3 linked regions of the Homo sapiens genome follow. The protein of the gene in region 1 purifies or fractionates together with the protein of each later gene. This does not show direct contact. Each region holds a gene or a part of one and is shown on either strand. Other genes may lie near its edges.

Evidence for each region.
Region 2: the proteins of PLVAP (region 1) and FLT4 purify together in Homo sapiens (affinity purification with mass spectrometry, with the first as the bait; one large-scale study listed by BioGRID). This does not show direct contact.
Region 3: the proteins of PLVAP (region 1) and ZDHHC6 purify together in Homo sapiens (affinity purification with mass spectrometry; 3 studies listed by BioGRID and IntAct, with this or other methods). This does not show direct contact.

The regions. Positions count from the first base shown.
Region 1 is NC_000019.10:17,353,307-17,356,957, reverse strand, and holds part of PLVAP (plasmalemma vesicle-associated protein), read left to right. Parts: intron 1-3,651. UniProt on the Homo sapiens protein: Endothelial cell-specific membrane protein involved in the formation of the diaphragms that bridge endothelial fenestrae. It is also required for the formation of stomata of caveolae and transendothelial channels.
Region 2 is NC_000005.10:180,600,986-180,604,731, reverse strand, and holds the end of FLT4 (vascular endothelial growth factor receptor 3 isoform 1 precursor), read left to right. Parts: intron 1-1,341; coding exon 1,342-1,540; 3' UTR 1,541-3,226; downstream 3,227-3,746. UniProt on the Homo sapiens protein: Tyrosine-protein kinase that acts as a cell-surface receptor for VEGFC and VEGFD, and plays an essential role in adult lymphangiogenesis and in the development of the vascular network and the cardiovascular system during embryonic development.
Region 3 is NC_000010.11:112,436,904-112,440,554, reverse strand, and holds part of ZDHHC6 (palmitoyltransferase ZDHHC6), read left to right. Parts: coding exon 1-21; intron 22-902; exon of another isoform or gene 903-1,049; intron 1,050-2,165; coding exon 2,166-2,219; intron 2,220-3,651. UniProt on the Homo sapiens protein: Endoplasmic reticulum palmitoyl acyltransferase that mediates palmitoylation of proteins such as AMFR, CALX, ITPR1 and TFRC.

The sequences.
Region 1 (3,651 bases):
GACGGAGTTTCTCTCTCGTTGCCCAGGCTGGAGTGCAATGGCCCGATCTCAGCTCACCGCAACCTCCACCTCCTGGGTTCAAGTGATTCTCCTGCCTCAGCCTCCCAAGCAGCTGGGATTACAGGCATGCGCCATCACGCCCGGCTAATTTTGTTTTTTTAGTAGAGACGGGGTTTCACCATGTTGGTCAGGCTGGTCTCGAACTCCCGACCTCAGGTGATCCACCCACCTCAGCCTCCCACAGTGCTGGGATTACAGGCGTGAGCCATCACACCCGACCCACTCTTATTCCTTCTAAGCCTTGATAAAATCTCAGTTTAGTGGGACAAAGTGGCTCACGCCTGTAATCCCAGCACTTTGGGAGGCTGAGGAGGATGAATTGCTTGAGTCTAGGAGTTCAAGTCCAGCCTGGGCAACATAGCAAGTCCTCGTCTCTAAGAGAGAAAAAATAAAATTCTCATTAATATAGTGTTTAGTTTAAAAAAATAAAATAGACAAAGCCTTAGCTGGTATTAACTTGCTCTAACGGCTTCCAGACACTTGCGCATCTCCCGTGTTCCCAAATCGATGGCCGACGCAGGGCCCCACATCAGCTGGGCTTCGGCGTGAGGTCTTGCTCTTATGGAAAAAAAATCTTTCTTTTTCTTTTTAGATGGAGTCTCACTCTGTCGCTGGGCTGGAGTGCAGTGGCGCAATCTCTGCTCACTGAAACCTCTGTCTCCCGGGTTCAAGCGATTCTCATGCCTCAGCCTCCCGAGTAGCTGGGATTACAGGCACGTGCCAGCATGCCCGGTTATTTTTTGTATTTTTTAGTAGAGACAGGGTTTCACCACATTAGCCAGGCTGGTCTCGAACTCCTGACCTCAGGCAGTCCGCCCGCCTTGGCCTCCCAAAGTTCTGGGATTACAGGCATGAGCCATGGTGCCCGGCCTATGGAAAATTTTAAAGTCATTTTCTGTTGGTGATGTGTGCGCCAGCTTTCCTTTACTTGATGAGACTGAGTGTCCCTTCCTGCAGATCACATGAGGCAGAGCAAAAACAAAAACAAACAAAAAAAGAAGTAGAGACTGAGTGTCTTTGGAAATCAATGTAAGTTTCTTTAAAAACGATATAAAGACAGTAATGGCTGGGTATGTTGGCTCACACCTGTAATCCCAGAACTTTGGGAGGCTGAGGCGGGCAGATCATGAGGTTAAGAGTTCAAGACCAGCATGGCCAACATGGTGATACCCTGTCTCTACTAAAAATACAAAAAATTAACTGGACATGGTGGAGTGTGCCTGTAATCCCAGCTACTCGGGAGGCTAAGGCAGGAGAATTGCTTGAACCAGGACCTGGGAGGTGGAGGTTGCAGTGAGCTGAGATTGCACCACTGCACTCCAGCCTGGGCTACAGAGCGAGACACTGTCTCAAAAAAAAAAAAAAAAATTAACCAGGCATGATGGCATGCACCTGTAGTCCCAGCTACTTGGGAGGCTGAGGCAGGAGGACTGCTTGAGCCGAGGAGTTCAAGGCTGCAGTGAGCTATGATCACGCCACTGCACTCCAACCTGGGTGACAGAGGAAGACCCTGCCTCTAAAACGTTTTTTAAATGGCAAATATTAAGTAAATCTTGGTCCAGGAGCTATGTGGCTGAATATGGCAAAAATTGCAATGGGAAGAGCTTTTTTTAAAAAAGATTTTATTATTTATTTTATTATTATTATTATTATTATTATTATTATTATTATTTTGAGATGGAGTCTCACTCTGCCACCCACGCTGGAGTACACTGGTGTGATCTCAGCTCACTGCAACCTCCACCTCCCAGGTTCAAGCAATTCTCCTGCCTCAGCCTCCCGAGTAGCTGGGATTACAGGTGCCCGCCACCAGCCTGGGTGATTTTTTTTGTATTTTTAGTAGAGATGGCGTTTCACCATGTTTACTAGGCTGGTCTTGAACTCCTGATCTCAGGTGATCTGCCCGCCTCAGCCTCCTAAAGTGCGAGGATTACAGGCTGGGCCACCACACCTGGCCAAGATTTTATTTTTATTTTTAATTTTAATTTTTTTTTTTTTTTGAGACGGAGTCTTGCTCTGTCACCCAGGCTGGAGTGCAGTGGCACGATCTCGGCTCACTGCAAGCTCTGCCTCCCGGGTTCACGCCATTCTCCTGCCTCAGCCTCCTGAGTAGCTGGGACTACAGGTGGCCACCACCACGCCCGGTTAATTTTTTGTATTTTTAGTAGAGGCGGGGTTTCACTGTGTTAGCCAGGATGGTCTCGATCTCCTCATCTCGTGATCCGCCTGCCTCGGCCTCCCAAAGTGCTGGGATTACAGGTGTGAGTCACAGCGCCCGGCCCTTTTTTTTTTTTTTTTTTTGAGACAGAGTCTCGCTCTGTTTTCCAGGCTGGAGTGCAATGGTGCCATCTCGGCTCACTGTAACCTCTGCCTCCCAGGTTCAAGTGATTCTCCTACTTCAGCCTCCCGAGTAGCTGGGATTAAAGGCATGCACCACCACACCCGGCTAATTTTTGTATTTTTAGTAGAGACGGCGTTTCGCCATGTTGGCCAGGCTGGTCTTAAACTCCTGACCTCAGGTGATCCGCCCACCTCCGTCTCCCAAAGTGCTAGGATTACAGGTATGAGCCACTGCGCCTGGCATTATTTTCTTAATCTTTTTTATTTTTTGAGAGAGTCTTGCTGTGTTGCCCAGGCTGCAGTGCAGTGGTGTGATCTTGGCTCACTGCAACTCCCACCTCCTGGGTTCAAGCAATTCTCATGCCTCAGCCTCCCAAGTAGCTGGGATTACAGACATGCATCACCAGGCCCGGCTAACTTTTGTATTTATAGTAGAAATGAGTTTTCACCACATTGGCCAGGCTGGTTTTGAACTCCTAGCCTCAAATGATCCCTCCACCTCGGCCTCCCAAAGTGCTGGGATTACAGGCATGAGCCACCGCGCCCGGCCGTATGGGCTTAAGATGGGAGTCCAGCCCTGGCTCTGAGCTGGACACGTGGTTAATGTTGTTCAAGTTCACTGTTAACGCCTCTGATGATTCGTGTGTCCATTCGAGCCGTATTTATTGAGCAGCTGCTGGTAACCGGGCATGGTGCTGGGTGCTGGGAACAAGGCACAGAAACCCGCTGCCCTCATGGGGCTCACAGTCTAGTGGGAGAGATGGATAATAAATTAGATGAACGGGTCACTCAAGGGTCCTTTGGTGATGGGCGAGACAGAGAAAGGGGCAGGAAGCGTAAGAAGGTTGGAACTTTCTACCAGAGACAGGGCAGGCTACACCGAGGAGGTGATATTGAAGCAGAGACCCAGAGGAGGTGAGGGAGGAGCCATGGGGGGATCCCAGGAAGGGTGCACCAGACAGAGGACACAGCCAGGGCAAAGGCCCCAAGGTGGGACCGTGCCTTGTGTGTTTGAGGGAAGAGGCCGGTGTGGCTGGAGTGGAGTGATGGAGGGGAACGGGAGGAGGAGGTGAGGGCAGGGAAGTGATGGGAGCTGATCAAGCCCTGCCTGTGGCTGCTGTGAGGACCTGAGCAGACGGGGGATGTGCATGACCCAGTTCAAGCATCCACAAGTTCCTCTGGTCACTGTTGGGGAACAGACTACGGGACAAAGAGCTGGGGACCAGGACAGAGGGATGTGCATTGACCCAG
Region 2 (3,746 bases), on another chromosome or scaffold:
CAGTAGCACCATGCAAAGCACCAAACAAGAAGTCAACATCTTCAAAAAATGCAAAGAAAGTGAGCGCTTGAGGATGGTGCATGATAGGGCAGGCAGAGAGGAGGGCAGGGGCAGAAACCACCCCCTAGGTCAAGGCGAGAGGCCTGGATTTGCTTCGTGGAGTGACGGGAAGCCGTTGGAGGGCGTGTCAGGAGGAGAATGACATAGTGTAACTTGAAGGACCTCTCTGAAGGGTGGACCACCAGGAGGCCAGGGTGGAAGCACACAGCAGTCCGCGGGAGGATGTCACAGAGCCGGCAAGGACACAGCTGGCTCCGCAGGAGGGCCAGGAATGGAGATGCACGGATGTGTCCTGGAGTTAGAATGGACAGGACTTCTGGATGGATTGGCTTTGAAGAGTGAGGGGAAGGAGGAAGCAAGGAGAACCCCAGGGTGCTTGGCTTGAGCGGCTGAGGGGACGGTGGTGCCGTTCACTGAGATGGGCAAGACAGAGTGAGAACTGGGTTGGGGGATGAAGTTGGACATTCTTCACAGTCTCGGGTCCAGGCTAGGTAGGGACAGAGCTCCAGTGAGTGCTGGATCAGATCGATCCGCTTTGCTGTTTGAGTCGAGTCTGTGTGTGTTTTCTGAAGTCTGAACGCATGCCATGCTCCACTGTGTCCTTGGTGGTTCCCATCAGACCCTGACAGGGCTCCAGTCCCTCCTTGTTTTTTGTTAGTTTGTTTTTGAGACAGGGTCTCACTTTGTCACCCAGGCTGGAGTGCAGCGGCACGATCTTGGCTCACTGAAACCTCCACCTCCTGGGCTCAAGCAATTTTTTTTTTTTTTAAGATGGAGTCTCACTCTGTCGCCCAGGCTGGAGTGCAGTGGTGCGATCTCAGCTCACTGCAAGCTCCGCCTCCCGGGTTCACGCCATTCTCCTGCCTCAGCCTCCCGAGTAGCTGGGACTACAGGCGCCCGCCACCACGCCCGGCTAATGTTTTGTATTTTTAGTAGAGACGGGGTTTCACCGTGTTAGCCAGGATGGTCTCGATCTCCTGACCTCGTGATCCGCCCGCCTCGGTCTCCCAGCAAAGTGCTGGGATTACAGGCATGAGCCACCGCACCCGGCCTCAAGCAATTGTTTCACTTAGCTGGGACCGCAGGCGTGCACCACCATGCCTGGCTAATTTTTGTATTTTTTGTAGAGACGGGGTTTCCCCATGTTGCCTGGGCTGGACTCTAACTCCTGGCCTGAAGCCATCCGCCTGCCTAGGCCTCCCAAGTACTGGGATTACCAGTATGCACCACCCGCCACCCAGCCTTCTTCTCTTACTAACACCACCTTCCCTGTCTTGGCAGCTGTAAAGGACCTGGCCAGAATGTGGCTGTGACCAGGGCACACCCTGACTCCCAAGGGAGGCGGCGGCGGCCTGAGCGGGGGGCCCGAGGAGGCCAGGTGTTTTACAACAGCGAGTATGGGGAGCTGTCGGAGCCAAGCGAGGAGGACCACTGCTCCCCGTCTGCCCGCGTGACTTTCTTCACAGACAACAGCTACTAAGCAGCATCGGACAAGACCCCCAGCACTTGGGGGTTCAGGCCCGGCAGGGCGGGCAGAGGGCTGGAGGCCCAGGCTGGGAACTCATCTGGTTGAACTCTGGTGGCACAGGAGTGTCCTCTTCCCTCTCTGCAGACTTCCCAGCTAGGAAGAGCAGGACTCCAGGCCCAAGGCTCCCGGAATTCCGTCACCACGACTGGCCAGGGCCACGCTCCAGCTGCCCCGGCCCCTCCCCCTGAGATTCAGATGTCATTTAGTTCAGCATCCGCAGGTGCTGGTCCCGGGGCCAGCACTTCCATGGGAATGTCTCTTTGGCGACCTCCTTTCATCACACTGGGTGGTGGCCTGGTCCCTGTTTTCCCACGAGGAATCTGTGGGTCTGGGAGTCACACAGTGTTGGAGGTTAAGGCATACGAGAGCAGAGGTCTCCCAAACGCCCTTTCCTCCTCAGGCACACAGCTACTCTCCCCACGAGGGCTGGCTGGCCTCACCCACCCCTGCACAGTTGAAGGGAGGGGCTGTGTTTCCATCTCAAAGAAGGCATTTGCAGGGTCCTCTTCTGGGCCTGACCAAACAGCCAACTAGCCCCTGGGGTGGCCACCAGTATGACAGTATTATACGCTGGCAACACAGAGGCAGCCCGCACACCTGCGCCTGGGTGTTGAGAGCCATCCTGCAAGTCTTTTTCAACAGAACTTCACAGACTGTTAGAGCTGCTGAGAAGAATTTGCTTTCCGAATTCAGCCTGGAAGGCGCCCAGGGACAGCTGTACTGAGTCTAGATGACTCTGACCCCCGCCCCAGGTCAAGGCCAGCAGAGCAGTCAGTGCCTCTGGAGAAGGCCCTTGCTCTCCCACCTGGCCCAGACTCCGAGGAGCCTGGGTCTGGAGCTGCCGGTCTGGTTCTTCCCTTTAGAGCCCGGATCTGCCACCTGCGGCCCCTCCCAAGCCGTGAACCAGCTCATGAGAGATGAACACTGTGGGATCCACTCAGGAAGGCTCGGGGCTGGCACAAAGGACCACCCAGCATTGCCCTGTGCCACCCAGCACTCAGTGGACATTCTGGGGACCTGCCTTCAGCCTTTTCCTGCCCTGTGCCTGACATCAGCACCCTGGCTGGTCAGAATGCCGCCCTCCCAGAGGAGCAGCCGAGAGATCCCCTGAAGGCTGGAGGCATTCTGCTCAGGACCCCTATCCCAGCTCACAGTGCCCAACCATCTCACCAGGAGAAAGAGCCACATCCCCACGTTAGGACCACGGAGACTGACCACCACCCTGACCCCCCAAACCCACGCACCAGACGCTTGCAGGACAGGCGCCGCGCAGCGGGCAGGGGCTTGCCCGGCCGACCCTCCCCTCCCCACCTCCCCCACTGCGCGTTACTCCAGGATATGCCGAGTGCACGTATAAGGTCATCTTCGTCGTCCCCGTGGACCTCCCCCTTCCTCTGCACGTCGTCCAACGTGGGACTGGCGTGTCAGGCTTCCCTGGGAGGATCTGGAGGTTGTTCTCTGCAGAGAACCAGCCTGGCTCCTGGCGCGCACCTCTGCTCCCTTCTCCTCACTACCCACCCACGCATGTACCGGGAAAAAAACTACTATGCCCTTCTAGACCATGTTCTGAGAAAAGATCGAAAATATTTAACAAGAGATAATAATAAATCTGATGCCGGTCTTTGTGTGTGTTGCGGACGGGAGTGTTGCTTTTATTGTTTTTGCTTCCGTAATAAATCTAAATGGGAATACAGAACAGCCCCCACATTGGGCTTTTTTTTTTTTTTTTTTTTTTTTTTGAGACAGTTTTGCTCTTTCCCCCAGGCTGGAGTTCAGTGGCGCGATCTCGGCTCACTGGAACCTCCGTCTTCAAGCAATTCTTCTGCCTCAGCCTCCTGAGTAGCTGGGATTACAGGCACCTGCCACCACGCCCAGCTAATTTTTGTATTTTTAGTAGAGACGGGGTTTCACCATGTTGGCCAGGCTGGGCTCGAACTCCCGGCCTCAGCCTCCCAAAAGTGCTGGAATTACAGGTGTGAGCCACCGCGCCCGGCCGCTTTTTTTTTGTTTTGGTTGGTTGGTTGGTTTGTAGAAATGAGGTCTCACTGTATTGCCCAGGCTGGGTTTGGATATTTTAGCTTTCCATTATAATTGACTGAATTTAGTCACTGACCTTGACATATGTGCCAACCCAGGTGTCCACCAACAGGGTGTCCCC
Region 3 (3,651 bases), on another chromosome or scaffold:
GGGATGTTGTTTTTTATCCAGGTAAGCATCTCAATTACCTCAAGTCAAAAGTGTCAAGTTGTTGGGACTGATTGCACAAGAAAGAGACAAAGCCTGTATTTAAGTGTCCAGTATGAAATGGAAATTATTTTTGCTTATTTCATTTAGGTAACTAATCTCCTTTGTATTCGTCAGATAATTTTGATTTAATTTTGCCAGAATTTCTAGGTATTGATTTAGTTTTTAAAATGCTAACTTCAAGTTAGGTAAGTTCTGGAGCACTTCAGAATTGAGAGAGCTCTTCTCACCTGTACAGTCTCTCTTGCTCTTCACATCCACCCCAATAGAGGAGTCTTACTGTTTTCCCTTCCCAACACGTGATTAATTCATTGATTCTCAAAAAGGTTAAGTGACTTACCCAATGTCACCCATTCATGTACTTGGTAAACATTTTCCCTTCCCGACAGATGATTAATTCATTGATTCTCAAAAAGGTTAAGTGACTTACCCAATGTCACCCATTCATGTACTTGGTAAACACTAATGTTATTTTATAATAGTATATATTTAATAATAGTAATCATAATATAGCTAACATTTATTGAGCACTTATTATGTGTAAGGCACTGTTTTAGGCACTTTACATGTATTAGCTCATTTAATCTCCATAACAGCCCTATGATAAAGATGCTATTTAAAGCCTACTCTGATGAATCACTTTGCTAATTTCTAAGGCTGCATAAATGATAATGAAGAGGTAGCTGCCCTTAGGAACTGACAGTTAATATTAAACAGTTAACTAATACAGGGCCATATGTACATCATAGATTTATGTGCACAGTGCTATGAGAACACAGAGGAGGAGGACCTGGCTCTGAAGGGACCAAAAACCATTCTTTTTCATTCTTTTTTTTTTTTTTTTTTTTTTTTTTTTTTTTTTTTTTTTTAGACGGAGTCTCACTCTGTCACCCAGGCTAGAGAACAATGGCGTGAACTCAGCTCACTGCAACCTCCGCCTTCCGGGTTTAAGCAGTTCTCTGCCTCAGCCTGCCAAGTAGCTGGGATTACAGGTACCTGCCACCACACCCGGTTAATTTTTGTGTTTTTAGTGGAGACGGGGTTTCACCATCTTGGCCAGGCTGGTCTTGAACTCCTGACCTTGTGATCCACCCACCTCAGCCTCCCAAAGTGCTGGGATTACAGGTGTGAGCCACTGTGCCCGGCCCAAAAACCATTCTTATGACTTATTGCATTCACGTAATTCATTCATTCATTCATTGAAGGCCTACTGTGGGCCAGGTATTATGCTAGGCCCTTGGAATATGATGAGGACTCCTGGGCCAAGGCTGTTTATTTTTTTATTGTTGTTTGTTTGTTTGTTTGTTTGTGACAGAGCCTGGCTCTGTTGGCCCAGGCTGGAGTGCAATGGCACGATCTCGGCTTATTGCAGCCTCCACCAAGGCTGTTTCTAACATACTACACTGTCTCTCTGAAGGCACAGCCAGACTTTAAGGGAACTCTTGGTTTTAAAATAATCTGGTTTTGTTTATACTTTATTATCGTCTACTAGCCTGGGACCAAATTCTTTGAAAAATTTTCCCCAATGCCTCTAATTTAGAATCATATTAGAAATAAACTAAGATCCTATAATATAAAAGCCTATATATGTGGAATCAGTCATATCTAGGAAAATCAAATAATAGAATAAAGACTGAATACATTCATTATTTTTAAGGCAAGTGAAATATTGAGGTTGACTGAAATGAGTCACTGTTACTTCTCATAAATAGATTAATCGTAAATTTAAAGTTAGTTAAAAATAGTGATAAAAGATTTTAATAGCAAATTATAAGTAAGCACTGATTAAATGGATTATATCAATGTTTTATTAAACCTTGCTCTGAAAATAGTACTTATGACATAAAGTTTGATTAACATACTAGATTCAGATTTGATTATGGATGGGTGTAATCATTGTTACGGAGAGGTACCGTGGTGCAGTAGTTAAGAACAAGGACTTTGGAGTCAGACGGATGACATGGTAATTGTGGTACTTAACCTCTGTTATCCTTGGTATCTTTGTCTATGGAATGGAGTAATAAAAGCTATCTCAGAGAATTATGAATATGATAATCTTAAAGGAACCAAGGTCGCATTATTAAATTTTACTATCATTTAATTTCCAGATGAAAATAATTCTCAGAAACAAAACTTCTATTGAGTCATGGATTGAAGAGAAGGTAAATTTTAATAATTGTTTCTTCAATATTAAAAAAGTATATTAATAAAGGACTGGTAAAGTCCTGAATATTAATAAAGTCTGTTATTAGACCGGATTAACGAAAAGTGCCTAAAAGTGAAAACATGGCTGCCAAATGGCTACCGTAAGTCATTTGCATGCCACATAAAAGGTGAATATAGGAAACATTTTTGTTCATTCTGTAACTCCCACAGAAAGGTGCTTCTCATACACCCTGAGTGGTCGCAGAGGCCTAAGCCACACGTCAAACCATCTGTTTGTTGTCTCTTAGACTAGAGGAGAAAGCAGCCCATTTGGAAAGGAGCTTCCACCCTACCAAACTGCCATCAGGTTTTTCTCAGTGTTTTAGACATTCAATGAAGCTCCTAACATTTTGCTTGTCACAGACCTCACAATGTCCAATACTTCATACTGTCCATTGTGATTCTAGCATGAAACACAAATCTGACTACCCTGCTCTGTGTTTAAAACTTCTCAGAGCCTCACCATTCCTGTGGCAGGGGTTGAAACCCAAATACCTGCAGGGTCTGGGCAGATAACGTCCATGAAGGGGAGCAAGCCTGTATACCAAAGAATTGCCTGGCAGACCAAGCTGATTGTTGCCACAGGGGAATATTCACAATTTCCAAATTACAAAATAGGGAGAAGAATAGCATCGTTTTATATCTTTACAAATCTCTTTAGTATCTTTGACTTAAGAGAAGATGGTTGGATTCTCACTTCTGCATTCAGTCTGTTGAGATATGTTGCTTCGATTGAAGTATGTGAAGATCTAGCCTCACACAGATAAGTAGGTAGAAAAGGATAGAATATTTTAATAGGCCTTTTACATGATAATAGTGGATGTTCTTCCGTATTACATTGAAAACTTGACAAGTGATATTTCTTATCAATAAGATTTTTATACCTTTTTATTTTAAAACTCATCAGTCTATCTTGCTCTTTGAATTAATCTTTTACCAGTATGTGGTTTTATGTAACATCAGGCATCGGTCATTTGGCAAATACTAGTTTACTGTGTTATGTAGATTTTGCAAACGTTAAACACCTTTCATTATACAATATCCCAAAATTGCATTCACGTATATCAATATATCATTTTTATGAGAAAAAATCCTTAAGTATTGGAAAGCTGTCAGGCTCACAGTGGTAGATACAAGGTTTTTTTTTTTGTAATTCTAGTATACATTTGAAAGCCTTAATTTTTTACTATTAACCCATACTGTCAGTCATTTCCCTTGAAGTGACTGCCTGACTGTTCGTTTTTGAGAAAATGTTCACCAAGTCCTGAAGTCTGAATAACCTTAGTTTGCTATATTACTCATTCTTTCAAATAAGAATAGTGTTACATTAAAAAAGCTGGCTCTACAGCTTTTGTTAGCTTACAGCTTAACAACTATTTTCCTTGAGAT